Linked DNA regions of Homo sapiens: region 2 is linked to region 1. Evidence: fine-mapped expression QTL. Tissue or cell type: cerebellar hemisphere. Region 1 holds a variant in brackets; the other region holds the start of a gene. All regions are shown on one strand. Distances are between the middles of the regions. Region 1 overlaps LINC01484 (long intergenic non-protein coding RNA 1484). Region 2 holds the start of LINC01484 (long intergenic non-protein coding RNA 1484).

What was found. PIP is the estimated chance that this variant, and not a neighbour inherited with it, causes the effect.
Region 2: LINC01484 starts here. The variant in region 1 is fine-mapped to the expression of LINC01484 in cerebellar hemisphere (GTEx, PIP 0.94).

What each region holds. Positions count from the first base shown.
Region 1 is chr5:173,711,387-173,723,788 of GRCh38, reverse strand. LINC01484 (long intergenic non-protein coding RNA 1484) reads left to right here. Exons shown (of 3, transcript NR_108027.1): 2 at 11,841-11,943. It overlaps LOC107984118 (a long non-coding RNA gene), which reads left to right and starts at 8,826. Exons shown (of 2, transcript XR_007059059.1): 1 at 8,826-8,963. RefSeq lists enhancers at 2,203-2,703, 2,704-3,204. The variant A/G (reference allele first, on the strand shown) is at 3,905.
Region 2 is chr5:173,739,140-173,755,030 of GRCh38, reverse strand. It overlaps LINC01484 (long intergenic non-protein coding RNA 1484), which reads left to right and starts at 8,822. Exons shown (of 3, transcript NR_108027.1): 1 at 8,822-9,011. RefSeq lists enhancers at 10,700-10,869, 11,000-11,049.

The DNA.
Region 1 (12,402 bases):
GGCAACAGTCCCAGCCCTGTTACCTATGGTGTGTGATGCTAGACAAATCATTTACCTTCTCTTTGACTCAGTTTCCTTATCTGAAAACAAGAAGGATTATAATGGCTTCTTTCTATAAACTTGTGAGCATTAAAAGAGAGAAGATACTAGAAGGTGCCCAGTAATAGTAGGTGCTATGATGATGATGATGATGATGATTATTATTATTATTATTATTATTATTATTTGAGACAGAGTCTCTCTCTCTTGCCCAGGCTAGAGTGCAGTGGCGCCATCTCGGCTCACTGCAAGCTCCGCCTCCCGGGTTCACACTATTCTCCTGCCTCAGCCTCCCAAGTAGCTGGGACTACAGGCGCCCGCCACCACACCTGGCTGATTTTTTGTATTTTTAGTAGAGACAAGGTTTCACCGTGTTAGCCAGGATGGTCTCGATCTCCTGCCTGCCTTGGCTTCCCAAAGTGCTAGGATTACAGGTGTGAGCCACCACGCCTGGCCCGTAGGTGCTATTATTAATTGCAAACATAGTAAATTTTCTTTGTCCCTGTGGACACACTCTTTGGTGCCACAGCCTGCTGTACTAGGGTATTTCTCCATGGAAATGTGGACCACCTAGATGCCAGCCTCACTTTGGCCCCACAATGTCCTCTGAAGGCTCTACCCGCAACCCCTTCCTAGTCCAAGCCTCCCCCAGCTGGGCCTAGCATGGCGAAACCCAGAATTCCTGGCTGAGCCCAGAATCCTCCTGTTATCTGAAATCCGCCCGCAGAGAAGCCCCTCCCAGCCAGGCTGCTCACACCTCTCTCCAAGATGCCTGGCACACGCATGCACCAGCACACACAGCCTCCTGTGCACATGCACACGCATGCAGGCAAACCCCACCCCCTCACAGGCACACTCCTCTTTATAGACACAAATTAATATGTTCAACAATTATATTCATACCCTTGAATTTAGACCTCATACTTCCACTCATATGCACCATACTCTCCTTCATTGAGCACATGGATACAGGATTATCCATAAATGCAAGTGTCACAGCCACGCACTCACGCATGCCCACGCACATGTGCTCGTGTGCGTGTGTGCACACATACACACACACACCTGCACATGATTCTGATGTGGGACAGAAGTTGACTTTCCTTGGGAAGGACTGGTAGCCCAGACTGTGCAGTCAGGAGGGCAGGAGGAAGTTAGCCAATGGGCAGTGGGCTGGGTAGCGGAGGATACCCTGGCGGGAACTGAAAGGTACTTCCGTGGTGGACAGAGGTGGTTCTGTTTCTTAGTTACTCTGAGAGTACCTTTTGCTGAGTGCTCCCTCCTGGCCAGCCCTGTGCTCAGGGGCTTTAGTCAAAAGACCTTCTTGGGGAGGACTTCCCCAGCATCCCAACACGAGCTTGCAAACCCCCCACGTTACCCACACAGAATCACATGAATGTCCCCTCGCCCTCAGCTTGCCTTTCCCTCCCAGCACTTATCAGCCCTAAAACACCGATGCTGTTACCTTAAAAAGGTTGTTTCCATTGTTCATTCCTTCCCTCTAGAATATACTGCTTCCTAAAAGCAGGGCTTTTTTTTTTCTCTGATATGTTCCCTGCTTAATTTCCAATACTACAATGCCTGGTTCATAGCAGGCAATCAAGAAACAAGTGGTTTTAGGAATATCTTGTTTCATACTCTGTACAGCACCCTGAGGTAGGTGCAGTTCAGAGCCTAGTCTTACAGAGAGCAGAGGCTCAGAGAGGGTAAATGACATACCCACAGGCACACAGCTCCCAAGTCACCACCAGGTTCTGACGCAGGCAGGTTAGCTCCAGAACCTGGGCTATCAGGGCCATGGTCTACCTCACCAGCGTATGAGAACAGGGAAGTTCACTACCCTTATCTGGACTCGGTTGCTCATCGGCAAAATTCAGTTCGACGCTATATTCTTTCATGTTTCATCCAGCCGGGGGATGGTGTGATTTCACGCTTCACGGGAGTAAAGGACTTGATGCTTGCCAAAGCATTTCCAAATAGCTTACCTCATTTCATTCCTACAACCCAGGCTTTCCCAAAGGTTCCTTTTGGCAAGGAGCCTTCCTGAGCCTCAGGAAGGTGAATACCTGGCCTGAGGTCCCATCCTCGGGAGGGGTGGGGCCACCCTTGAGCAACTGAGTGTCCCCAGGGCCCTGGGTTGCCAGAATGGCATAGACTTCTTCCAGCCCCCTCTGTCCAGGGACAAGTTTGGTTTGCTTCCCCAGAGAATTATCAATGCTTGCTACCTTCTCTTCTCTCTCCTGTCTTTCATTCAACTTATTAATAATATCAATGAGTATCAATATCAATGAATATCAATATCACCTACTAGATGCCAGGCACATCACTGGCCACTAGGGCTGCAGCTCATCTCTGTCTCCATAAGCTTGCATTCCAGGGGAGGTGCAAACACAGCCTGATGTGGTGAGTGGGCTGATGGCAGAAGTTCGGGAAACATTAGGGGTGCATGGGTATGGCCCCCAAGGGTCCAGGAAGGCTTCTTTCCCCAAGGAGGAGGTGATGCCTGAACTGAGACTAGCAGATTTGTAGGAATAAATTAAGCGACAGTTGGGGAGGGTGTCCCTGGCCGAGGCCCAGAGGTCAGCAAGCCAGGCCATCGGGAAAACTCACCCCACCCACCTATCCACTCTGGGACTCAACCCTGCACAGTCAGTGCCTCTGGAAGCCACCGACTGTTGTCGGAAGGGAGCTCCTTCCAGTACCATCGAAGGGCTGGCTGCTGCTGGAGCTTCTCTGGGCCCTTCCAGCTTCCCTGCTGCCTGGCCTACCTCCTCCATCTCCAGGGAAGCAGGATTCATTCTAGGCCTGATTTATTAGCCTCATCCTGGAGTCATCCCAGATGCTGTCGCTGGTCTCATTTACTGACCTGCCTGAGGGTGGAGGAAGGAAATTCATTAGGCCTGCAGAGCCCATGGCCAGGCCCATCTGTCTGGGCATCTGCCTCCCCTCCCCTCCCCTCCCCTCTGTTCTGCTCTCTTCTTCCTTTCTCTCCCCTCCCCTCTTATTCTCCCCCCGCCCCACAAAGGAAGGAAGCTCTGTGCCTGAGTCTTCGCTCGGGATTACCAAGGCAGTGACACTACAGAGCCAGGTCCCCAGGGGAGGATCCTGACCAAGGAGGAAGGGAGGCACAGAGGTCTGGAGAAACTCCTGTGCAGCCTCCAGCACTGCACCCTGAGGCTCCCCCAGCCTCCTGCCAGATCCAGGAAACACACATTCTCCATCTGGGGATTTGGAAAGCTCTCTCCCGGGTACAGCAGACCTGCCTGTTTTTATGCAAAAGGTGTCTTCCTGGGCAAGTTGTAAGAAAATAAGATCTCCTGAAATAGATTGCTACCTTTAAAACAGAAGGCAAGAGGCAGCCTCGGAGGCATTTTCATTCCCGACACAGGGCCAGCAAGGCGATGTGAGGGAACAGAGGGCTCAATGCTTTTTATTTTCATATGTTTTAAGGATATAAAAATATATATAAACTTATAATTAGCATATCTAACCCTTGATCACACAAGATAAAATTGCTTTGAATAAAGCTAAAATAGGTACTTACGTTTCTAGAAGCAGATCAATTTAAAGAAAAGCGTAAGGAGAGTTGCAGAAGAGAGTTACAGAGGAGAGTTACAGAAGATACACAGTGGTTGACAAAGACACTAGAGTTTAGGACACATTACTCTGAAAGAGTAGGTCAGCGAACGCATTGCCAAGGTTAAACTTCTTGTGAGATGAAGCAAACCTTGATTTCAGCAGCGCATCTCACGGAGGGAAGCTGCAACCCCGGGTACCTTGCCAAGCCGGCACCTGCTCCCCTCAGCCTGCAGAACAGAAGCCATCCAAAACAGATCGCATGTGTGCAGTGACCCCGGAGGTTTAA[A/G]CAAACATGGCCTCAGGCCTCAGTAAATGTTTAGCCTTAGTGACTGGCTGGCAGGGGGGTGAGGCCTGAGGCCCTCTGTCCCTGACAGCTGGCACTGTGGGGGCAGGCTGGGGCGGTGAGGGTGGGGAGTGAGGGCCTGGGTCAAGCTCCTCGCCCTGTGCTCATCTTTTCTGACCTAAGGAGAGGCTGACATTCTTGGAGGCTGAAAGAACACATGGAGAGCAGTGTTTTTCCAGCTTCTGTGTTGGTAAGAGCCTGGAGTCTCTCTCTCTGTCTCTCTCTCTCTCTCTCTCTCTCTCTCTATCACACACACACACACACACACACACACACACACACAGAGCAATCACTGCACCCAGCCACCTCTATATACATGTACACAAAGCCACACAGTTTACACAGTCACAGGTATTTAAGTACACACTATTCACACACAAATACATATATAGACACACATGTACAGTCCGTCCAAAATATATGTACATAAAAGCACACTATTACACCTTCATATGTGCACACACACACACACCCAGACTCACTTCATACACACATAGATACAACAGCCACAGCTCCCCATCACCTACACACACACACACACACCTGGACACCCAGCTCTAATATAATCAGATAGAGATATGCATGCAGACAAATTTGCCTGTATAGTCAAACACATAGGCAAATAGAGAACGAGACACCACATGAACAAAGGCAAACCTACACACAAAGACACAGAGCACACTTACGCATATATCTATAGACCCACCATGGCACATATGGGTAAGTGCACACAGGCAAACTCACACACACGAGCATGCACAGGCAGAGAACACAAATGTACACTCCCAGGTGTCATAAAGAACAGCCCAGCTTCGGCTTGGGAACGTCACATCAGACAATAGGAACGGCTGCACCGCGCGTTTCCTCGGCTGCCAGCTTCCCAGCCACAGAGGATGCCTCACCTGCTATGTCAGCTCCCCTCTGCCCCACCTCACAAGAAGCTCAGAAGCTGAGGAGTCACAGAGAGACCTCCCTACTGTGTCAGAGGTAGGTAGGCACGACCAAGATCACATCCAGGCCGTTCCCACCCACCAACTCTTTGTCATGAGGTTTGTATCAGATGCCCTGTCTGCTGCTACAGCACAGAGCCAGCTGGCCTACAAAGACCATTCGGTGTAGTGAAGTCAAGCAGACCTGAGGTCAGGTGCCGCCTCTGCCCTCCACAGCTGTGGACCGTGAGCAAGTCACTTCACCTCTCCGAGTCTCAGTATCCTCACCTGTAAAGTGGGTGTAATAATAACACCTAGCTCAAAGAAGAGTGTGAAGGTTAAATTAGTCCTGCATGTGCTGACCACTTAGCACAGCTCCCGTCGTGCCGGAAGCACCCTATAAACCAGGCATTTGTGAGAAACACGGCACTATGGACATTTTGAGCTGGATAATTTTTCGTTGTGGGAAATTAGCAGCTTCCCTGGCCATTACCTGCTAGATGTCATTAGCACCCCCTTCCGAGTTGTGACAATCAAAAGTGTCTCCAGACATTGCCAAGTGTCCCCTGGGGAGGGGGGCGTGGCACAAGAGCTGCCCCGCTGAGGGTCACTGCTATGCATGTTGACTTTTATTATTGCTGTTGGCATCATCATTGCTAATACACTGGCTATGAGATGCTCAGAACAAAAAGGGAACCGGAAGCTGGAATGAGGATAAGCTCTGGGTGGCTCCCGTAGTCATTTCCTGCCTCTTTCCTCCTCCCTCCCGCTTTCGCCACCTTTGCTGCTGAAGCCACCTTGCAGGGCCAGGCCTGGCCTTGTGAGCAGCTGGAGGGAAGAGAGTTGAGGCACCCGCGCACGTTACTGTGGGAATGGAACTGAAATGGCTTCCCATGGGTGGGTAGTCTGGCCAGGCGCAATTCTGCACCTGGAAACTGGGCCTCCTGGGAAGTTAGGATGGACCCCACTTCTGGGCAATCTTGGGTGGGGCTGCGGGGGAAGGGGGCTGGGGAAATCAGGAGCAAAGAAAGCTCAGGACAGCAAAAGGGCAGAATACGTGACATGTTGAAATAACCTAGCCTCATCTATTAAAATACAAAATGCATGTATCTTTTGACAAAGGGATCCCTTACGTGGGAATCTGTCCTATAGAACAACAATCATTTATACGATTTGTAAGTACAAGGTGTTACTGCAGTACTGTTCATAGTGGCAAAAATCTAAAAGCCACCTTTGCTTGTCTGTCAGCTGGGGAATAATTGAATAAATTGTGGGTCACCCACACAACAGAATATTTTGCACCTGTTAAAAAAAGTTTTCTACATATGCAGTTATCTGGATTAATGTCCAGCACATAATTGTTAAATGAGAAAAACAAGATACAGAATACTGTAGGATCCCACTTTTTTGGTAAAAATCAACTAAGAAGCCCTATTTTTTGTATGTGTCTGAATATGAGGACAACTAATATTAGTTGCTGGAAAGAAAGGTAGAATGAGATGAATATGGAGAGATTACTTTTCATATATGTGTGTGTATAAATGCATAGACCTATGTGATTATCATATGTTTTATGCATTGTTATGAGTGCAAGCTACTTCACTAATTTCTGCAGAGGAATTTAATAAGGAGTTGTTATTTTTTTTTCTTTGAAAGAGAGTCTTGCTGTCACCCAGGCTAGAGTGCAGTGGTGCAATCTAGGCTCACTGCAACCTCCGCCTCCCGGGTTCAAGAGATTCTCATGCCTCAGCCTCCTGAGTAGCTGGGATTACAGGCACACACCACCACATCCGGCTTATTTTCTGTATTTTTCATAGAGACAGAGTTTCACCATATTGGCCAGGCTGGTCTCGAACTCCTGATCTCAGGTGATCCACCAGCCTCAGCCTCCCAAAGTGCTAGGATCACAGGTGTGAGCAACCGCGCCTGGCCAAGGACTGTTTTTAAATGAAAAGGAAAGAACTCATTCCTGAACCCATCTCTCACAGCGAGGTTTTAAAGCATGGTGTGGACTCCTTCACTCGTAAATAGGTTCAGCAATTCTATCTTGAGAATCTGCTATGTGGTGGGCACAGCTCTGAGCACAGTTAACCCAACAGGTGAAAAGATGCATCCCTACCCCAAAGCACTCACCTTCTGGTGGAAACACAGAGAACAGAGGAACACATCCATGTATAAGGCATTGGGAGGTCATGTTTACAAGAAAAACAGAGCAGGGTGAGGTACAGCCAGGAGTGGTGGCCTGTCTTCTGGACAGGGTGGTCAGAGAAGATCTTGGGCACAGACCTGAACAGACTGAGGGATGGAGGAGCCTGGGGAAGGAAAATCCAGGGAAGGGTGACCCTCCAGAGGGCCTCTGAGGGTGAATGTGCAGAGGCAGAACGTGCCTGAAACGCTGAGCAACCAGGAGGTCCGTGCAGGAGCTTGTGTTATTTTGGTGCAGGAGCTGGTGTTATTTCGGTGCAGGAGCTGGTGTTATTTCAGCATAGGAAGGACTTTGAATGTCATTCTAGGGGATTTGTCTTAGAAAAACAGGTTTCATCATTCCTGGACTTGTTCAAGACTGCGGTCAGCCCAGGCTATATCCTGGAGGGTCTGAGCAGAGGTTCAGCAGAGGTCCTGGTGGGCTCCAGGCAGGAACTGAAGGTGCTGAGCAAGACCTTGGTCATTCGTGCGAATGAAAGCCACAGTGGGGTACCCCAGAGGTTTGAGCAAACATGGTTTAAACCTCTGCAGAAATTAACGAAGTCACGTACACTCATAACAATGCATAAAACATATGATAATTACATAGACTTATGCACTTATCCACACACATATATGAAAAGTAATCTTTCCGTATTCGTCTCATTCCACCTTTCTTCCCAGTTGGATGTGGTAGAACAGACACTGCTGGTGGGAGAATCCTTGTGGAGCGAGCCCTTTGGCAACAGTTGGTGATTCCTAGTCAAGCTGAACATGCGCACACACTGGGATCTACCACTGCACTCCTAGGTGTGTCCCCTCCAGGAACTGTAGCATTCCAGTGCCAGGAGACCCACACAGCCTGCGCACAGCAAGATCATTCAAGATAGCAAAACCAGGAACAGCCCAAATGTCTACAGAGAGTAGAATGTGTGAGAAAACTGGGCTACCTTCCTCCGGGGCAGTACGATGCAAGCAGTGGCAATGAATAAGTGGCTGCTGCAGGCACGGGCTTGGGTGAATCCCAGATCCTCACGTGAATATAGGAAGCAAGTCACAGAGCACAGAGAGTATGATTCCATTTGCACAAAGTCCAAAACCAGACAAAATAGCTAGACTTTGTTTAGAAATCCATAAATAGGTCATAAAAGTATACAGAGAAACAAGGGAGTAATTGACACAAAATTTTTTAAAAAGTGTTGTAGACTGTAATTTTTTAAGTGAAAATGGTTGATATTTCATTGTATGACTCATTTAAACAGAAGCCAAAATGGATGAATGTCTTTTACTTTGTCGTTGTTAAGTAGGTGATGAAGGTGAAATTGTCAGTGGATGACATTAATCCTTCTCTCTCCACCGTTTTCCATAGGATTGTAGGTTTAAAGCAAAAGAGTGTTCCGTGGGATTTTCCATGGGATTGTAAGTTTAAAGCAAGAAAGTCAATACTGATGATGCCTTGAAATAAGTTATACAATTATACCCATTTCAGAGATGAGCAGAATGGGGCTCAAAGAGGTGACAGCACTTACTCAAGGTTACCCGGGATTCAGATCCACATTGGTAGGACTCCAAAGCCAGAAAGAACTTGACATATTTGAGGAACTGAAAAGAGGGCAGGGGTGGCGGGAGCACAGTGTGTGAGGGATAGCAGAAGGATTTGTAGGTCATGGAGGGAAGCTTGCAACGTTATTAATGGTGCCCTAGGGAGTCACCAAAGGGTTTTTAAGCAGAGGAGAGACAGGGCCAGATCTGCATTGTATAAAAACTTCTCTAGCTGCTGTGTCACAAAGATACTGGAAAGGGGCAAGGTGAAGGAGGAGACCAGCAGAGCAGCCACGGCCGGGACAGTGCAGAGGAGGGAAGATGACACAGCTGTGAGACATTTTGGGGTGAGTCACAGAATTTGGCAATGGACTGAATTTGAGACTTGAGGTAAAAGAAGAGGTCAAGAATGACGCCAGATTTTTGACTTCAACAGCTGAGTAGAAAGAGGCGACATTTGAAATAACTGAAGGAACGGCAGTCTGTGGGGACACAGGCCTGGGTGCTCAGAGTGGCACACTTTAATGCAAATGGCCTTCTGCTTTCTGCTCCAGTCCCCGCACTTAAGGAAGGAACAGCCACTGAGCTGTATGAACAGCCACCCCTGCCCTCCAACAGAGGCCCTGTTCTTGACATGCTCGTGCACCTCACTTTTCTCCTGGGGTGAGTTCTTTCCTCTGCTCTTCTGCTGACTGACACCTAGTCGGCCAGTCCAGGCCTGTCTGAAGCCTTGGGTGAGACCCCTGGTGCATCTCATGTTGTTGATTCCTCTGGCCTTTTGCTAAGTCCTCTACTCCTCTGCCTTTTATAAGGTCGAAGGGAACTCTAAAAAATCTATACTGGCCCATCAGCTGCAAAAATTAACTGTTTGGATCTCTTAGAATTTGGGTGGTACATGAAGAGCAATAGAAAACACTCCCCTTTCCTGGAGCATTACCTGAATTATTTAATAAGTTGCTTTCACTGGAGTCAATATAGTACCTAAGTCAAAGGCCTTTGAAGTCAGACAGGTGTGAGTTGGAATCCAGCCTCTGCAACATCAATAGCTGTGCGATCCTGGGCAAGGGACTTAGAGTGAGTAACACAGGGTCTGGCAGATAGGAGGACCTCAATCAACAGAAGGTGGTAGTGATCTGGGAAAATTGTAAAAGAAGAGACTTTTGGCTGGAAGAGCCAAGATCTTGCCGCCATTATATAGGTGGAGGAACGGAGGCCTGGAAACATTACAGGGTTTGCTCAAGGACCCACATTAGAGGTGGAACTCTACCAGGAGTTAACGCCACAAATGACTCCCAGCCCTGTTCTCTCTCCAGACCCCCTGGGGAAAAGCCGCAGACATGAGTGAAGGCAGCAGGACCTGTGTGACGTGGGTTTTCAGTTGATTGCAAGGTTGCTGGGGAGCAGAGGGACCCACTGCAGTCCCACAGGCTGGATGGTTTTGTTTTATTACACAGGGTAAAATCTGAACTAGCTGCTACTATTTACATATCAGGAGGTTTCCTGAAAAAATCAAAATTTCTGAATTTTTTTGAAAAATCAGAAAACATGGCCACCCAGCCCTGTATTCCTACAGGGTGGCAGTAGTGGGAGCTGACCTGCTGCTGTGCCCTTGTGGATCTGTGCTCTCCAGTTTGCCACAGTCCCTATCCCTCTCTATTGTCTCCTGGACACTATAGCCTGGTGTCACCTGCAGCTGGCTATCATGCTTGAGCTATTGTGTTTTGAATATGTGGTCCACTTTCCTCATTTGTGTGACCTGCTCTGTCCACAAAGACATGCACTTGCGATTCTGGCCTTAGAGTGTCTCCTTAAAAAAATGTTTTAGAACATAAAGATATATACATTCTCCAATCCATTGCTGCCCTATTAGCTATTGTTGTGGAACCCTGAGTCATTTCTCTCAAAATTCTCCTGGCAAATATGTTCCCTCTGAAATCTTCCTCCCCACATCCATTTGGAAATAGAAACTCCTGCCCACGGCTGTAGTGGTCCCTTTCTCTGCATCCTCCACTATTCCTCTTCTTTTGGATCTTGCCAAGGGTTATGGTCTGCAGTTTTCCATGCCTTTTCCTTTCCCCACCCTACCCCCCTCGCCTGCTCGCAGGGCCACTCCTTCTCTCCACATCGTGGAAACCTGGCCCTATGCTCTGCCTCGCTGCAGCTCTGCATGGCTGGCCCTCCTTTCTGCATCCGGTGGGCAAGAGGAACCAAAAACAGACATTTACAGGGAGCGGGGGATGGGGACAGGTCAGGTTTCTTGAGTTTCTTGGAGCAGGAATGTCAGTCACCAACCCTGTACCCTTACGATTCGCTCTGGACAGTGGCATACTAAATCTGTACTTGCCTCCCTTTCACTTTCAGAGATGAATAAACAAGCATGTCCTGCCTAAGATGTTTGGGGCCTCTCCTCTTTGACTTTCTATTCTACTGCCTCTGTTTAGACCTGTGCCAACTTGCAAACTTGCCATGGCCTCCCATCCAGCCTCCCTGCTTCCAACTCGCCCTCTCCTGTCCCTCTTCCACCCTGCCTCAAGCTTGATCAGGTCTCCCATCTGCGTGAATCCCATCAAGAGCTCCCTATTACCTTCAGAGGGAAGCCCAGGCCCTTGGCCAACCAGGCAGGGCTCACCTAACTTCCCAGCCTCATTGCTCATTTCTCCCCACCAGCACTGGCACTCAGTCTCGAAAGCCAGGAAGCTCTCACCCGGTTTTTCTCCTTGCCCTCATTTTTTTTCTCTATCAGAAAAACTTCTCTCATCAGGATGGAGTTGGGGAGGGGGCTACTCCCACTGATCCTTCAGGAATCAGTTTAAACACCACCTCCTCCCCACCCTTTGTCTGACTGCTTGTCTCCACCAAAGCGTTTAGATTGTTTTGTTTCTCCTCTGCTCACACCTCTGCTGTGGCCTGCCTGGTTGCACAGTTTACAGATCTGTCTCCCCCAGACTCTGAGGCCTCAGGCAGAGACCCTCTGGCTCATCTCTGTGTCCTCAGAACATGGCCCAGGATCTGGCATGACGACAGCCTAATACAAGCTTGAGGAATTGAGTGATGCAGTACTGAATTTCAGCAAAGACATAGAGAGGTTGTTCATAAAAGGCTGTCCTTGGGTTTTTTGAAATATGTTTCCTGCTTCATAGAAGCAAGGACCATTCTTCAAGAAGATGACCATGGGCCTCTCTCCACCCTTGTCAACCACAAGGCCCTTTCTATTCCTTTCACAGGAATAGGTCCTTCTGTCACGGGGCACAGGACCCTTGACCGCAAAATGACGTGAGTTACCACTGACTATTTTCTGGGTCTTGATCTTGTGACTCCAAATGGATGGTAAGCTCCTTAAGGGAAAGTCTATGATATTCATCCAACCACCCATCCATCCTTTCATCCACCCAACCATCCATCCATCTGACCATCATCCATCCATCCATCCATCCATCTATCCATCTTCTATCCATCTGTCTACTCACCCATCCACCCATCCATTCAATTATTCATCCATCCCTCTTCCATCCATTCACCCATCTTCCATCCATCTGTCCACCCATCCATTCCACCATTTATCCATCCAACCACCATCTATTCATCCAACCACTCGTCTATTCATCCCTCTGACCATCCAACCATCCATCGATTTGTTCAATTATTTTATCAAGCATCTACACTGCACCACACACCCTAATGGGTGTTGGGGAGAAAATGGAGAGTAAAATCAGATGGGACCTCTGACCTCAGTGCGGCTGACCATCAGTCCGGTAGAGGAGACACGTAAACTGACAATTATAAATA
Region 2 (15,891 bases), 29 kb before region 1:
ATGTCTACTTCTCTAGGCTTCAGTCCAGACCAGAGTTTTGATCACATTAAAAGCTAAGAAAGGGGCAACAGACGACAAAGATTCTTGGATTTGGCCTTCCAATCATTCCCCCAACCCCCAGAACCAGAGACAAGGCAGAAGCCATAGGAGGGGAAATACTGATCCTCCTGGTGCCAGAGGACACGGAACAATGGGAAGGTCATGGTTTATCGCCTGCACCTTGCAAGATGGCAGGTTCACAAGAGAGAGTGAAGGAGAAGGCAGCATTTGCCTGGTTCACGCCATCTCTCCAGGACCAAGCACAAGACCTGACATAATGGCAGCCCTTGATCAATATTGGAAAGCAAGAAAGAAGGCAGGAGGGAAGGGAAGGGAAGGGAAGGGGAGAGAAGGGGAGGGGATGGGAGGCATTCTATGTGCTAAGCCCTCCACTTTACAGAATCTAACCTTCCCAAGTACCTGGTAAATCAGGAATTATTATCCCTTATTTTCCCAATATGTGGAAATTGGGCTTAGCAATTTACCTTTTGCAATTTATGTGACCTTGCGATTTGCCTTTTGCAATTTATGTAACCTCTCTGTGCCTCAGTTTCCTCATCTGAAAAATAGGAGGGATAATAATAACATATTTTGGCTCATAGACTTGTCATGTGAGTGCCTTGTCTGAGACACGATGAACTCAGATTCAATTAAGTTATTATTATCACATTGCAAAAGGCAGCTTTGGGACTCAAGACCTGGTCTTTCTGATTGAAAGATTCTTTTTACCTTACCATGCACTTCTGCAAACAAACATTTAAAAGAGTCTACACTGTAATCAATGCCCAATATATAAATTAATTTCCATTTAGTTTCCTTCTCCCAAGTTGAGGCCTGAGCACAATTTTGATAAGCTACAGATTTATAAATTACTCAGAGCTGGATTTACTGGGGAAGGGTGGTGAAAATGTGGCACAGGGCAGAGGAGGAGAAGTAATTCCTATAAAGTAGTGTCAAAGCAATAAATGCAGATCGTGGGATTCATGGTGATGACAGCTCATCGGCTTCCATGAATATTTGATCAGGTTGGGTTGCAGGAGTGTGGCCTGGAATTTCCAGGCAGGCTGTGACTTGGGCTTATAAATAGTGAACATGCAGGAATGAAACGGACTCCCAAACCTGAGTATCCCTCCCACCAGAAATTTGTGCTGCGTCAACTGGGGGAAGGTGGTGGGTCAACTAGAGGGACCAAGGGGCGAGGAGGAAGAGGGGAGCTGCTAATCACCCACCATCACCCCACGCCTCTACCCTGCTCCCTCCAGTGCCCCCAAATGACCAGTGGTTCCCCTGGCACTGATCTGAGATGGCGCCATTAACAAGGGCCAGAAGCCATTTAGTCTGCGTTGGAATAGCTGGGATAGTGTGAGCCAATCTCCAAGCCCCAGGCTGTTTTCCAGCCCTCTCAGGAGCAGCTCAGGTTTCTGGCCCAGTGAATGGCGCAAGCTGGGGCCTCTCTAAGCAGATCCGGTTACGCTCCCGCACTGCCTGCCGAAGCCAGGGACACTCCGTTAGAGGAGATCAGACTCTGGCTTGTTGGTGACCCTGAAGTGAGGGCCTATCAGCCCTAACCATCTCCACTGCTGCATCCAGGCTTATGACTGTGACCTGAACCTTTGCTTAAGGGGGAGACCATGGACGCAGGAAAATTTGGTTTTCCAAATTTCCAAATCCTAGATCTGCCACTTTCTAGCTCAGGGACTTCAGCAATCCTTTAGCCTCTCTGAGTTTCAGTTTTCTCATCCTTAGTGTAGGGATAATATAAGTATCCAGCTTGTGCCTTTATCAGGAGATATAAGTGAGATGGGCCATGCAAAAATTATTTTGCTCAGTGCTTAGCTCATACTACGTGCTTCATAAATATTAGCTACTTTTATATTTTGTTATCATTGCTGCTGCTAAGAGTATGTTTCTAGGAAACAGAATTTTGTGCCACATTGGCCAAGGTAATCTTTTTTAGACTCAAATGGAAAAATGAGATCTTGTAGTGTCCAACTATTTCTTAGGGACAGACTGCAGCCCAGATAAGCAACTTCCTCCAGGTCACACAGTTAGCTGGGGGCAAAGCTGAGCCTGAAACCAGGCCATGTGAGCCACATTCTCCTCCTCCTCCTTGTTGTACACTATCCAGTGTACAAAATGTTTTCGCATTTATCTGTCTCCATCATGCCATGCCGCAGCAACACACATGCAGAACAAAGAGAACTGGGCCCGTGCAGCCTTGTCTGCCTCACTCACAGTGCATTCTGGGAAACTCCTCCAAGCCCTGGGAAGCCTTGTCAATTAGCATCCTTCTGGCAGGCTTTTTAACGTCCAAAGGAAATCAGCATAGTCAATCTCTTCAGGATTTTAGTTTGAACTTTAATTTCAGCCCCAAGCCTCAACAATATCTCTGTTCTTTGCTCCCTCCATTTCATTTTTTTTTTTTTAAGACAGGGTCTCAGTCTGTCTCCCAGGCTGGAGTGCAGGGGCGCAATCACAGCTCACTTCAGCCTCTGCCTTCTGGGCTCAAGTGATCCTCCCATCTCTGCTTCCCGAGTAGCAGGGACTACAGGTATGTGCCACAATGCTTGGCTAATTTTTGTATTTTTTGTGGAGACGGGGTTTCACCATGTTGCCCAGGCTGGTCTTGAACTCCTGAGCTCAAGTGATCCACTCGCCTTGGCTTCCCAAAGTGTTGGAATTACAGGCGTGAGCCACTGTGCCAGATCTTACTCCCTCCATTTCAAAGGAGAGCTGGAGAAATGAATCTATCCCTGGGTGTGTGTGTATCTGTGTCTGTGTCTGTGTGTGTATGTAAAAATTAAAGCAAATGCTCATGGCACAGGATGTTTCCCCTCCCAAGGAAGAGCAAAGGAAAACCTGGGCTGTAAAACTTGCGCTCTAGGCACCAACCTTGCTGCTACAATTTGGAAGTCACCTGTGTTGTTATGAATTTTAAAATAAACCTGAACTGAATTGTAATTCAGACAAAACAGTGTTTTGCCTAAAAACAAAACCCTAAAACTGTAAGCCACGAGACACACGGGGGGTCAGGGTCAGGATGCAGGAGACACAGACTTCAAACCCAGACAGACTTGATTTCAAGTCTCAGCTCTACCATGCACTGGCCATGAGGACTTGAAAATACCACTGAGCATCTCTGGGTCTCTGTCTTCTCATCTGTAAAATAGGGACAGTATCAACCACCTCATAGGCTCCTTGTCAGACATAAAATGAGAGGATGTATAGAAAGTACCTGATATAGGAAATGTGCAGTCAATAAGAGCTGTCATTAAGTGTGACTGTCACCATGGCATGACTTCCCCCAGTGACATTTCTGGCAGAATTCCTAGATGGTTCTGCTGTGGCGGGGAGGCCTGAGAAAGCACTGACCCCTTCTACCCATTTTTTCAAATGAGGAAACTGAGGTCCAGAGAGGTGATTTAGAAGGGAACTAGGAAAATTAAAAGCTGGAAACGTCATGGAAAGTCTGTTCTTGAGCTGTTTCAGGGCAGTCCTGCTGACTCAAGGGGCTAGGGAGGGACGGAGAGTGGAGTCAAATTTTTGAGACTTATTTACAAGACCAGGGCCCACAGCCTGGACCGCAGTGATGTCAGTGCCACAGCCAACTGCACCACCTGCTCCACCAGAGGATCGGGGGCAGAACCAGCCAGGGGGTGGTGGTCCCTTCTTCAAGGCTGTGGGTTGACTGGCTGGTCACCGCAAGGTGCCCTTAGGTCAGGTTTCTTGCATAAAATGGGGATAACGTCTCCCCCTCAGACTCATTGTAAAGACAAATGCTACATGGGATGAAAGGGTTGCTAACCTCATCTGTGTTCTGGGCTGGGCTGAGTGTTTCTCACACGGTCACTCATTTGGTTCCCCGGTCCCCCCCAGGAGGGAGGAACCTTCACTTCCCCTTATTGCACAGATATAGAAACTGAGGCTTGGAAGGTGTAACCCACTCAAGGTCACACAACTACTAAGTGGAAGGAAGAATGGGGTCTTGGCCTCTGCCTGTCAGGATGCAGATGTCTGTGATGCTGTTCTGGACATGCCCAGTGGGTCCTCCGTGAGTGGCCTCCACAACCAGCAGAGAGTCATAGAGCAAGGCAGGTAGAACAGCTAGCTCTGCTCCCCCGAGATGGAAAGGAAGGCCACCTCAAGGCAGCTTCTAGGACCTAGACTGTTTCAGTGACAGTAGATCATGCTCTCTAACACCTCTGCATGGGATGGGAGGGCTGGGGGAATGGAAGGGCAGGTTTCGTGCCTCCTGTGCTAGCTTGCTCCAGCTGCCACGACAAAATACCACAGTCTGGGATGCTTAAACCACAGACATCTATTGCCTCCTAGTTCCGGAGACTAGAAACCCAAGATCAAGATGTCAGCAGGGTTGGTTTCTCTTGAGGCCTCTCTCCTTGGTGTGCCGATGCCATCTTCATTCACTTGGTCTTCCCTCTGTGTGTGTCTGTGTCCTAATTTCCTCTTCTTGTAAGGACACCATTCATACCAGAGGAGGGCACACCCTAATGGCTCCATTTAACTTCTTACCCTCTTTCTTTCTGCCTGGGTGCCGTGGCTCGTGCCTGTAATCCCAGCACTTTGGGACACCAAGGTGGGTGGATTACTTGAGGCCAGGAGTTCAAGACAAGCCTGGCCAACATGGTGAAACCCCATTTCTACTAAAAATTACAAAAAAAAAAAAAAAATAGCTGGGTGTGGTGGTGCCCACCTGTAATCCCAGCTACTCAGGAGGCTGAGCATGAGAATCACTTGAACCTGGAAGGCAGAGGTTGCAGTGAGCTGAGATGGTGCCACTGCACTCCAGACTGAGTGACAGAGCGAGACTTTGTCTAAAAAAAAAAAAAATGCTCTCTGTAAATGTGGTCACATTTTGAGGTACTAGGGGTAGGACATCAACATATGAATTTGAGGCCAGGGGGACCCAGTTCAGCCATGACACCTCCCTTTACTGTGAGGGGTCAACGTGCCTTTCTGGGTCCACCCACTGTGGCCTATGGAATCTTTCACAGCCTCTCAGCAGCACAGTCCTCGGAGCCACAGCCTGGCCTCCTTGGGTCTCCGGCCAGAGAAGGCTCTGCTCAAGTGTCATCTCCTCAAAGAGGCCTTCACTGACCATCCTGTCTAAACAAGAGCTCCCCTCCCCTAGCCACACAAATTCTCTTCACAGCCTCTATCATCGCCTGGACTTGGGTGTGTTATTTGCTGGCTTACATATTATCCCTCTCCCTACTAAAATGTTAGCTCCCTGAAGACAGAAATTTTATTTTGTCCTAGCTGTACTCCCAGCATTGAAAAAGTCACCGGAGCCATGGGTTGGAGGGAAGGGGCGGGAAGCGGGGAGGGCTGAATAGGTGGATCACAGGGAATAGTGGCATCATGCATATCACGATGCCTTTGTGCAAAGCCATAGAATGTACAACACAAAAAGGGAACCGTAATGTAAACTAGAGGCTTTAGTTAATAAAAATGTATCAGTATTGGCTCATCAGTTGTAACAAATATAGCACACCCATGCAAGATGTTAATAACAGGTGGTAACGGGATTGGGGGGCTTTGGAAGTAGATGAGAACTCTGTATTTTCCACTCATTTTTCTATAAACCTCAAACTGCTAAAAAAAAAAATGAAGTCTACTAATTTCTTCTTTTTTTTTTTTTTGAGATGGAGTCTTGCTCTGTCACCCAGGCTGGAGTGCAGTGGCACAATCTCTGCTCACTGCAAGCTCCACCTCCCGGGTTCATGCCATTCTCCTGCCTCAGCCTCCCGAGTAGCTGGGACTACAGGCGCCCGCCATCATGCCCAGCTAATTTTTGTATTTTTAGTAGAGACAGGGTTTCACCGTGTTAGCCAGGATGGTCTCGATCTCCTGACCTGGTGATCCGCCCGCCTCAGCCTCCCAAAGTGCTGGGATTACAGGCGTGAGCCACCGTGCCCGGCCGAAGTCTACTAATTTCTTAAACAGCACGTAGTACATAGTAGGTACACAGTAAATATTTGCTGATGACTGAAGGATTCAAATCATCAGCCTCAATTTATGGAGGTTTATGCCATGCCCCACATGGTACTGCAAAAAACCCAAGTGAGGTACAAGGCATAGACCCTCCAAAGAGTGACAGAACTCACAGGAAAAAAACACAAGGTCAATGGCAATTAGGTCAATGATAATTAAAACACAAGGTCAGTGGTAAACACAATGTGAGTGGTGATTAATTCATTCTGAGGCTCCTGTAAATTGCCTGCAGGGAGGCTGTGCTACTGGCCACCTGCAGACAGTACCCCAGCCCCCACCTGAGGCTGTGGGAATGCCTTGTAGTCAACAAAGCGAGAGTGACCCCCAACCACTGAGGATTGCCTGGGTAGGGTATTCCATGGCGTGAGCCACATGACTTCTCAGAGGTCCCCAGCAGGCTGGAGCCCAGCTAGCCTTGGCAATTACCTGTCCATCACACACCATCCCATGGTTTTACTCTGTTCCCTGTGTCACTTCCCTAGTCTCTCACCAAGATGCCTGGGGTCACCTTCCAAATAAAAACCTTGCCCCAAATCATTGTCTCAGTGTCTGCTTCCTGAGGGACCTAAACTAAAACACTACCCACTGTAAAAGGCGGTACAGAGAAGGCTCTCCATAAGGGGTAATCACTGTTATCATGTTACTAATAGCAACAGTAATAACGAGCATCATAATGATGAAATAACTGAGACCCCAAGAGGGAGGGTCTCTTGCCCTAGTTCACTTCAGAAGGTAGATGGCATAGGGGTTTCTAATCTAGTCTGTCTGACTTCAACATCTGTGAGATCCCACACACCCACACACCTATGCACTCTGAGTTGAAATGCCTGCTGCAGATTCCCAGGGCTCCCAAGGAGCTGCTCTTGGGGGTTAGATGATAAGGATGGCTGGAGTAATCCCAGAGAGCTTCCTGGAGGAGTTGGCATGGAGTCTCAAGAGAAGAACACAGATTCTGGAGTCAGGCTCAGATTTGTGATTGGGTTCTATGTCCCTGAGCAAGTCACTTTAACTACTTGGAGCCTCAGTAATCCCATTGGAAATGGGAATAATGGGGCCCAGCTCACACAATTGTTATGAAGAGTAAATGTATTGGTGAAGAGAACAGGTTTTAGACTGAGAGAGCTCTGAGTTGGGATCCCGGTACTGTCACTGACAAGCTTAGAAAAGTCTTTTTTTTTTTTTTTTTTTTTTGAGATGGACTCTCACTCTCTCGCCCAGGCTGGAGCACAGCGGCACGATCTCGGCTCACTACAAGCTCTGCCTCCTGGGTTCACACCATTCTCCTGCCTCAGCCTCCCAAGAAGCTGGGACTACAGGCGCCCGCCACCACGCTGGGCTAATTTTTTGTATTTTTAGTAGAGACAAGGTTTCACCATGTTGACCAGGATGGTCTCAATCTCCTGACCTGGTGATCCGCCTGCCTCGGCCTCCCAAAGTGCTGGGATTACAGGCATTAGCCACCGCACCCCGCCTAGAAAATACTCTTAATCACTCTAAGCCAAAGTTCTTTCATTTGTAAAATGGAAATAATATTAGTTCCTACCAGTAGAATTATAGTGAGAATTAAATAAGATAGCACATGTAAATCCCTTAACATGGTGTATGAAATACAGTCAATGCTCACTAAATGTTTGGTACTTTTCATCAAGATGTTAGCGGCAATGGAGTAAATTGTACAAACTATTTTGGATATAATGTGGCACATCAAATTAAAACTGAACACACCTATGGCCCAGTGATTCCACTTTTAGGGGTTTATCCTATGGATATATCAAGATACATGTGTGAGAATGCTGACTGGAATACTGTTTGTAACAGCAAAACACTGGAAACAACTCAACTGCCTCAGTAGTGAGGGAACTGGTTACATCAATGGCAGCAATACCCACAAAGAAATGCCACGTAGTTGTCAAAGGAGAAATGCAGATTCATGAGTGGGATGTACAGAAAGATGTCCAAGGTATACTGATAAGTAAAAAGGCAAGTGATAAAAGAGGTGTATATATTAACCTGTCTCTTTAAAACTTTTTTTTTGAGACAAGCTCTCACTCTGTCACCCAGGCTGGAGTGCAGTAGCTCAGTCACAGTTCACTGCAACCTCCTCCTCCCAGGCTCAAGTCATCCTCCCAAGCAGCTGGGACTACAGGTGTCTACCACCACACTTTACTAGTTTTTTGTATTTTTAGTAGAGATAGGGTTTCACCATGTTGCTGAGGCGGGTCTCAAACTCCTGGGCTCAAAGAGATCCTGTAATCCCACAGTGCTGGGATTACAGGGGTGAGCCACTGAGCCTGGCCTTGTCTTTTTGTTGTCGTTGTTTGGTTTTGTTTTTTAAAGGCATACACATGTGCTTAGAAGTATTCTAAAAATATTCTCAAGGAAGTGTGAACCCAAAGTATCTGAGACAGTCTTAATCAGTTTAGAAAGTTTACTTTGCCAAGGTTAAGGACGCACCCATGACATAGCCTCAGGAGGTCCTGAGGCCAAAAATTGTTTGGCCCCAAGGTAGTTGAGATACAGCTTGCTTTTATATGTTTTAGGAAGACATGAAACATCAATCAATATGTGTAAGATGTACATTGGTTTGGTCCAGAAAGGTGGAGGGGGTGGTTTCCAGGTCATAGGTAGACAAGAGACAAATAGTCGCATTCTTTTGAGTCTTTAATCAGCCTTTCACTGAATACACAATTTACATGCGGTGGTGGGGGGCGGGGGCGTAGAAGAATAGTCACTTATGCCTTAGTCTGGCTCAGTGAATCAGCATTTTTACATAAACAATAGGGCAGAGGAAGCAATCGGATAGGCATTTGCTTCAGGTGAGCAGAGGGATGACTTTCTGTCCCACATCTGTGAAGATCAGCTGTTGGTTTACATTGCCAGGGTGAAATTCAACAGAACTAATTTAGGGTGAAGATCTTGAGGCCCACAAGGAATTTCCTTGTGGGAAAATTGTGAGGAAGGTAAGTAGCTTTTAAAAATCTTTGTAGCTATCTTCTTCAGGAAGGAAATGGGTGGTGGGTTTGCCCAACATGGTTTCCAGCTTGACTTTTCCCTTTGGCCTAGTGATTTTGGGGTCCCAAGATTTATTTCCCTTTCACAAAATGATTAACAGTGATTATTCTAGAGCAGTGGTTTTGCAGGGGCGATTTTTGCCTCCTACGGGACATTTGGCAATGTCTGGAGTCATTTTCTTGGTTGTCACGGGGCGGGGAGGGGGGTGCCACTGGCATTGAGTGGCTAGAGGCCAGGAATGCTTCTAAACATTCTACAGTGCACAGGTCAGCCCACGACAAAAAAAAGAAAAAAGTTTGGCCCAAGATGTCAATAGTGCTGAGGCTGAGGAATCGCTGAGAGGTTTAAGAGGTTGAGCGCTCTCAAATGTGGGGAAGAAGACTTATTTTTCATATAATGCTTCTCTGATGCTTGCATTACATTAATAGCAACAGCTACAAAATCTGCCCACTCTTAGCTATGAGCTAATGCGTGTAAGATGCCAGCATATAGTAGGTGCTCACAAGGTGTTCCTTTCTTGCTGCGCTCTGGCTTTCACATCTGCAGAAATGGGTGTGCCAACACCTGCTCTGGGGGTGGCTGCAAGGCTCATTTTAGGCTACAGTTCAGGCCCTGACCACCTGGCTCTGGGTGCAGCTGTTAAAAGCGTCACCAACCTGCCCGGGGGCAGCTTCCCATATCCCTTCCTCTGCCACTGGTTATTCTGCTGAAGTTCAAGGGCCCCCAGCTGCTTCTCAAAGCAGGAACACTTCTGCAAAACACATCCTGAATTTGAATAGCCATGTTGCTGTGTCTCTGACAGACAGGGCTGCCAGATAAAATTCAGGACATCCAGTTAAATGTCTCATGCAATATTTGGTATATACTTATACTAAAGAATTATTCATTATCTGGAATTCAAATTAAATTGAATCCATATGTATATAGCTGTTGTTGTTGCTGTTTTAATCTGGCAGCTCTACTGTCCAAGCAAGGTAGAGATGAACTGTGTGCTCTTTTCCAAGGAGCTAATCTCATCAGATAGAGATTTTGCTTTTGTTCCATCAAAAGTCTTGCTCACTTACCAAGGGAGCTTGGATCCTGCTGGGAGACTAAGATGGTCACTGCCTCTGACAATTTCGTAAAAATCTCAGGCTCCTGGGGCTTATTCAGGCAAGTTGGGAGGGACGTTTCTGAAACACGTTTGGCCCGGTCATTACGGAGGAGGAGGGATTGAGAGCAGAAAGCAGAAGCGAATGGAATTCAGGCCTCAGGATGCCTCCCCGGCATAGGCCCCATCAGAAGCCCTATTGTATGTTTGTAAGTTCAGAGGCTCCTTCTTAAAGAGGCGCTACACACTGTATGAGCCCCAGGGTCCACCAAGTCTGGGGTCTGGTCCTGGCTGAGAGGGCAGTGCACTGAAGCTGTTTATCCAGTACCTGCTACGTGCCCAGCCATGAGCACACTCCTGGGCCAGCATCCTGGGCTAGGGCTCACTGTGGGTATTCTACAAAGGGGGAAACCAAGGCTCGGAGTGGTGGAGTAACTCCCCCAATGCCACCCAGCTGGGAAGTGGCAGAAAAAAAAAAAAAAAGGATTTGAACCTGGGTTGAGTTTCCTCTTTGCTGGGAACAGCACCTCAGGGCCCTGGTTCCTTGGGGCCGGTTGAAAGGAGAGAGTTGCCTCCCTGAGGGTCTCTGCTGGGTGTAAGCACTGCAGGAAGGGGCTGTCTCCTTAGGGGAAGTTAGGGCCCTAGCCAGGGCCAGAGCAGGAGTAGGTTCTGGGAGGACAACTGAAAGTTTCAGAATTATGCTCAACATCTAAAAATATCAAGCACCGATTTCATGGCAGGCAAAGTTGCTAAGAGACTTCACAAGCATCATCTCATTTAACCTCCCGGCAACCTTGTGACAGTTTGATCATGTGCTGCGTTTTGCAGATGAGAGAACTGAGGCCCAAAGAAATGCTGCATGTACCCAAAAGCACCCGGTGGGTAAGGAGAACAAGGATTTGAAGCCAGGCCTTCTGAGAGAGGGGAGGCAGGAGAGAGGCAGCACTGGACTCCCACGCGGGGCAGTTCGGGGACTGTTGGATTAGTCTCCTGTTACTGCTGTAAAAGATTACTATAAGCTTAGTGGCTGAAAACAACACAAATTTATTACCTTCCAGTTCTGAAGGTCAGAAGTCCAAAATAGGTCTCACTGGGCTAAAACCAGTGTGTCAGCAGGATTGCATTCCTCCTGGAGGCTTTAGGGGAGAAGCCATAGCTTTGTTTTTCCCAGTTTCTAGAAGCCACCTATATACCCTGGTTCACGACCCTTCCCTCCACTCCAAAGCCAGCAGCATAACATCTTCCAGACTCTCTCTGACTCACTTTCGGCCTCCCGTCTCCATTTTTTAAGGACCCTAGCGATTACCCTGGGCTCAGCCAAATAATGCAGAATAATCTCTCCATCATGAGATCCTTGACTTCATATCTTAAAGTCTCTTTTGCTATGTAAGGCAACATAGTCACAGATTGTGTGGATTGGGACATGGATGGCTTTGGAGGGGCCATTGTTCTGGCTATCACAGTGCTGCCTTGGCCTTCGTTGGGCTTTGCCTCTGTTCTGGGAGTGAGGGGTGAAGTCATAGAGCTGGAGGAGGGGGTAGGAATGGGGCTGGGCTGGTGGTTGAAGAGCGGCAGTGAAACAATGATCCTTGATGTGGGACCACGGGCATGGGGGTCACAGGATGGCCTCCCTGAGACGTCTCCAGCCAAGAATCTGAGGAGAACACTCTGGGCACTGCCATATTCCAAGGGGCATGGAACCATGCCAGGGGCCACATGGCTGGGCTCAGCACCTCTCAGAACTGTCGCCCAGGTCTGCATCATTGGGTGGGACTAGGGAGGGACTCAGACAGAAGGACATGTGGAGTGGCCCAGCGGTTCACAGCCAGTTATGCTAGAATAGTATAACCCTTTCACCCAGAAGTTCTATTCCTATGAGTTTATCCTGCAAATAGATCTACCCCTGCATGAAGTGATATATGCAAACTTAATTACAAGATTATTTATAAATTAGAAATAACCTAACTGTCCATCAGTAGGGGACTATCCTGGTGGTACAATCATAGAGTGGAGTTCTACGTTGTCATCAAGAAGGCTCTTTACATATCACCATGAAAAAAATCTCAGAGAAAAATACGGATCAGGATACTATGTTGAGCATGCTACAATTAGTGCAAAACTGGACAAAAGGAAGAATGTATTATATATAAAATTTATATTTGCATAAAACATCACTGCAAGATGACGCATGAAACTGAAAGCATTGGCTGCCTTGAGGGAGGAGGAGGAGTGTGTGCCTGAGAGACAGGGTGGAAGGGAGGTTTGTCATGATTGACTCGTTTCACTTTTCAAATGTGGAACAATATGAGTATGTTCCCTACTAATAAATGAATGGTTAAAGTGTTTTAAAGAATCCTTTGAAATCATATGTTCAAAGAAATACTCAATTGTCTAAGTTGGAAGAAACTGTGAGCCAAGCTACCCCTGAGTGATGGTCTTGAGCATGAGTTCTGCCCGTGACCCTCTTTAAGAGCCAGGGAATTTTTCCTTTTTTTAATTTTTTTTATTTTTTTTGAGACATGGTCTTGCTCTGTTGCCCAATGGAGCAAGCTCTGTTGCAGTGGAGTGGTGCAATCACAGCTCACTGCATCCTTGACCTCCTGGGCTCAAGCCATCCTCCCACCTCAGCTTCCTGAGTAGTTGGGACCACAGGCACGGGGCACCACACCTGGCTAATTAAGGGCCAGGGAATCTTGTTGCCCAACATAGTCACTTCCCTCCCACCATTCCCCACTCCTACACCCAGGGCCAGACAGCTGAGCATGTGGCGGTGCCCCGGTTCACCTTGTTAGTATTCCTCCAGACTTTGGCACACAATGATCCATCTATCTGGGGTACCCTCCCACCTGCTTCTTGCACTGCTTTCAGCAATGGCCATGCTCTCCTTGTCTGCCTGAGCACGCAGCTGAATTGCATCTTCTAGGCTCCCTTGCAGTTAGGTGTGGTCAAAAGTTAGGGCTTTTAGGAGGTCACTGAGGTTAAATAAGGTCATAAGGGTGGGGCTTTAATGCAGTACAAGTTGTGGCTTTATAAGAAGAGGAAGATCTCCCTCTCCCTCTCCCTCTCCCCTTCTCCCTCCCCCTCCTCCTCCTCCTCCCCTTCCTCCTCCTCCTCCCCCTCTCCCCCTCTCCCCCTGTCCCCCTATCCCCCTGTCCCCCTGTCCCCCTGTCCCCCTGTCCCCCTGTCTCCCTGTCTCCCTCTCCCTCCCTCTCTCTCAGCATTATTTTTATTTTCATTACCATCATCATGTTTATTGGCTTAGTATATATTTTTTGGCCACCCAACATCCCTCCTGTTCCTTCCCTTTCCCCAGGAGAAGCTGATCCAGGTATCCATTCTCTCTTCCTCCATGCTGCCCTGGGCCCTGGGGAAGCTGATTTTTCCACCTTAGCTCAAGCAGTGCCTTCGGTTAGTCAAGGGTCCTTCCCACCCCTGCAGCAGTGATTGGGTCTGTCTCCTTGTTGCCTCTTCCTGGTTCCTCCTCATTCCCTGACTCTGCAGGTCGCAGAGTCTGGCAGTGCTCAGTCTCTGACCTCTTTGCTTCTGTAGCTGTATTCTCTCCCCAGGCCGTCACTGCCAGATCCTTCGATTTAAATCCCATCCTTATCAGAGGTTCTCAACTCTGGCTGTACGATGGAACCACTTGGTGAGCTTGTAAAATTCTCAGTGCCCCACTGCACCCCACCGGTTCTATCAGACTCTGAGGACTCAAGCATCCACAGTTTTGAAAGCTCCCCCGTGAATCCACAGAAGCCAGGCTTGGGAAGTGCCGCTGGAGGCAGGGGCAGAAGACCTGGAGGTCAGGAGGACCTCGGTTTGGGTAGCGGCAGTGGATGTGTGAGCAGCCGTGCTTTCTGGGTATGTTTGAAGGTAGGGTGAGCATGGTCTTCTAAAGAATCAGATGTCAGGTGTTAAAGCAACAGAGGAACCGAGGATAACACTAAGGTTTTGGCCTGAGGAACTGGACAGAGGACACCACAGGAAGAGCAGGCTTGGGGAGGGGTCAGAAATCAGATTGAGGTTCAGTTAATTTGGAGACGATTATGATGATGATTTGACATCCAAATGGAGACCCTAAGTTGGAAGCCGACATCAAAATATGGACATCAAGGGAGAGTCACGAGTCGAGAGTCAGAGATAAGGATTTGGGAGTCCTCGGCACACAGACCCACGCCTCTCAACCTCATCTGCACATAGACTCTCCTGTGTCTTTTAAAAATCCTGATTCCCAGGCCCTATCCCTGACTGATGACATCAGAACCTCTGTGGGTGGGCCCCGGGCATCTGTATTTTCTAAAAGCTCTCCAGGTGATTCCACTGCGCAGCCAAGATTAAACACCTCTGTTTTAAAGCCTAAATGAGATTGGGACATTTCTCCATTCAAAATCCTCCATGGGCCTCCTATCTAAGTCGAAGTAGAGGCCGGGTGTGGTGGTTCACACCTGTAATCCCAGCACTTTGGGGGGCCAAGACGGACAGGTCACCTGAGGTCAGGAGTTTGAGACCAGCCTGGCCAACATGGTGAAACCCTGTCTCTACTAAAAATACAAAAATTAGCCGGGCAGGTAGCAGGCACCTGTAATCCCAGCTACTCAGGATGCTGAGGCACGAGAATCACTTGAACCTGGGAGGTGGAGGTTGCAGTGAGCTGAGACGGTGCTACTGCACTCCAGCCGGGGCGACAAGAGCAAAACTCCGTCTCAAAAAACAAAACAACTACAATAAACAAAGTAGAAGCCAGAATCCTCACCACAGACCTCAAGGGCCATAGCTCCTGCCCCCACTTACTCCCTGACCCGGCCTCAAGGGCCATAGCTCCTGCCCCCACTTACCTCCCTGACCCCTCTCCTACAGTATCCCCCTCCCTCATTCTGCTTTAGTCATCTGGCTTCCTTGTTGTTTGTGAAACATACCAAGCATACTTCTGCCTCAGGGCCTTTGCACTGCTGTTGCCACTGCCTGGAATGCCCTTCCCCTCGATGCCCTCATGACTGACTCCCTCACCTCCCTCGGTCTCTGCTTAGACCACTCTAGTTAACATGGCTACTTCCCCAACGTGCACTCGCCTTCTCCCTTCCCTGCTGTATTTTTCTCCCTAGCACTGATCACATCTAACAGTATTGCATATTTTACTCATTTGTTTTTTGTCTGTATCCTCCTGCTAGTTCTAATATGTCAATTTTTAGAACTTTCTTCTATTTTGTTCATAGCTATGCTGCCTATAGCAGGTACTTAATAAATATTTGTTGAAAGGAGAAATATGTTAACCCAGTCCTTGCCAATAAGAACCACAAGGGCTGACTTAGGAATGGGCACGAGACCCAATTTAGGCAACGGAGATGCAAGGGAGGCTGACTGGAGACTTCTAGGAAAGCCTGGAAGAGACGGTGTGTAGATGTGTAGCTGCAATGCCACAACCACTGCTGCCTTGTGGGGTGAGGGATTCGGGTCGGGGTCAGTGCTGGCGGCACCCCAGCAGGGTGGAACTGAAGGAGAGGGGACACCAGACTCGGCCAGTCCCCAGCTTACCACTTCTTTGTTGTTTATGCCAATCAGAGACTTTTTGCTTTTGTTTCTGTTTGTTTTCATTTTTAAGATTGTCTGGGAGGTGGTTGTAGCATTTTTTTTTTTTGAGACAGAGTCTTGCTCTGTCACCAAGATGGAGTGCAGTGGCGCAATCTCGGCTCACTGAACCTCCGCCTCCTGGGTTCAAGTGATTCTCCTGCCTCAGCCTCCCA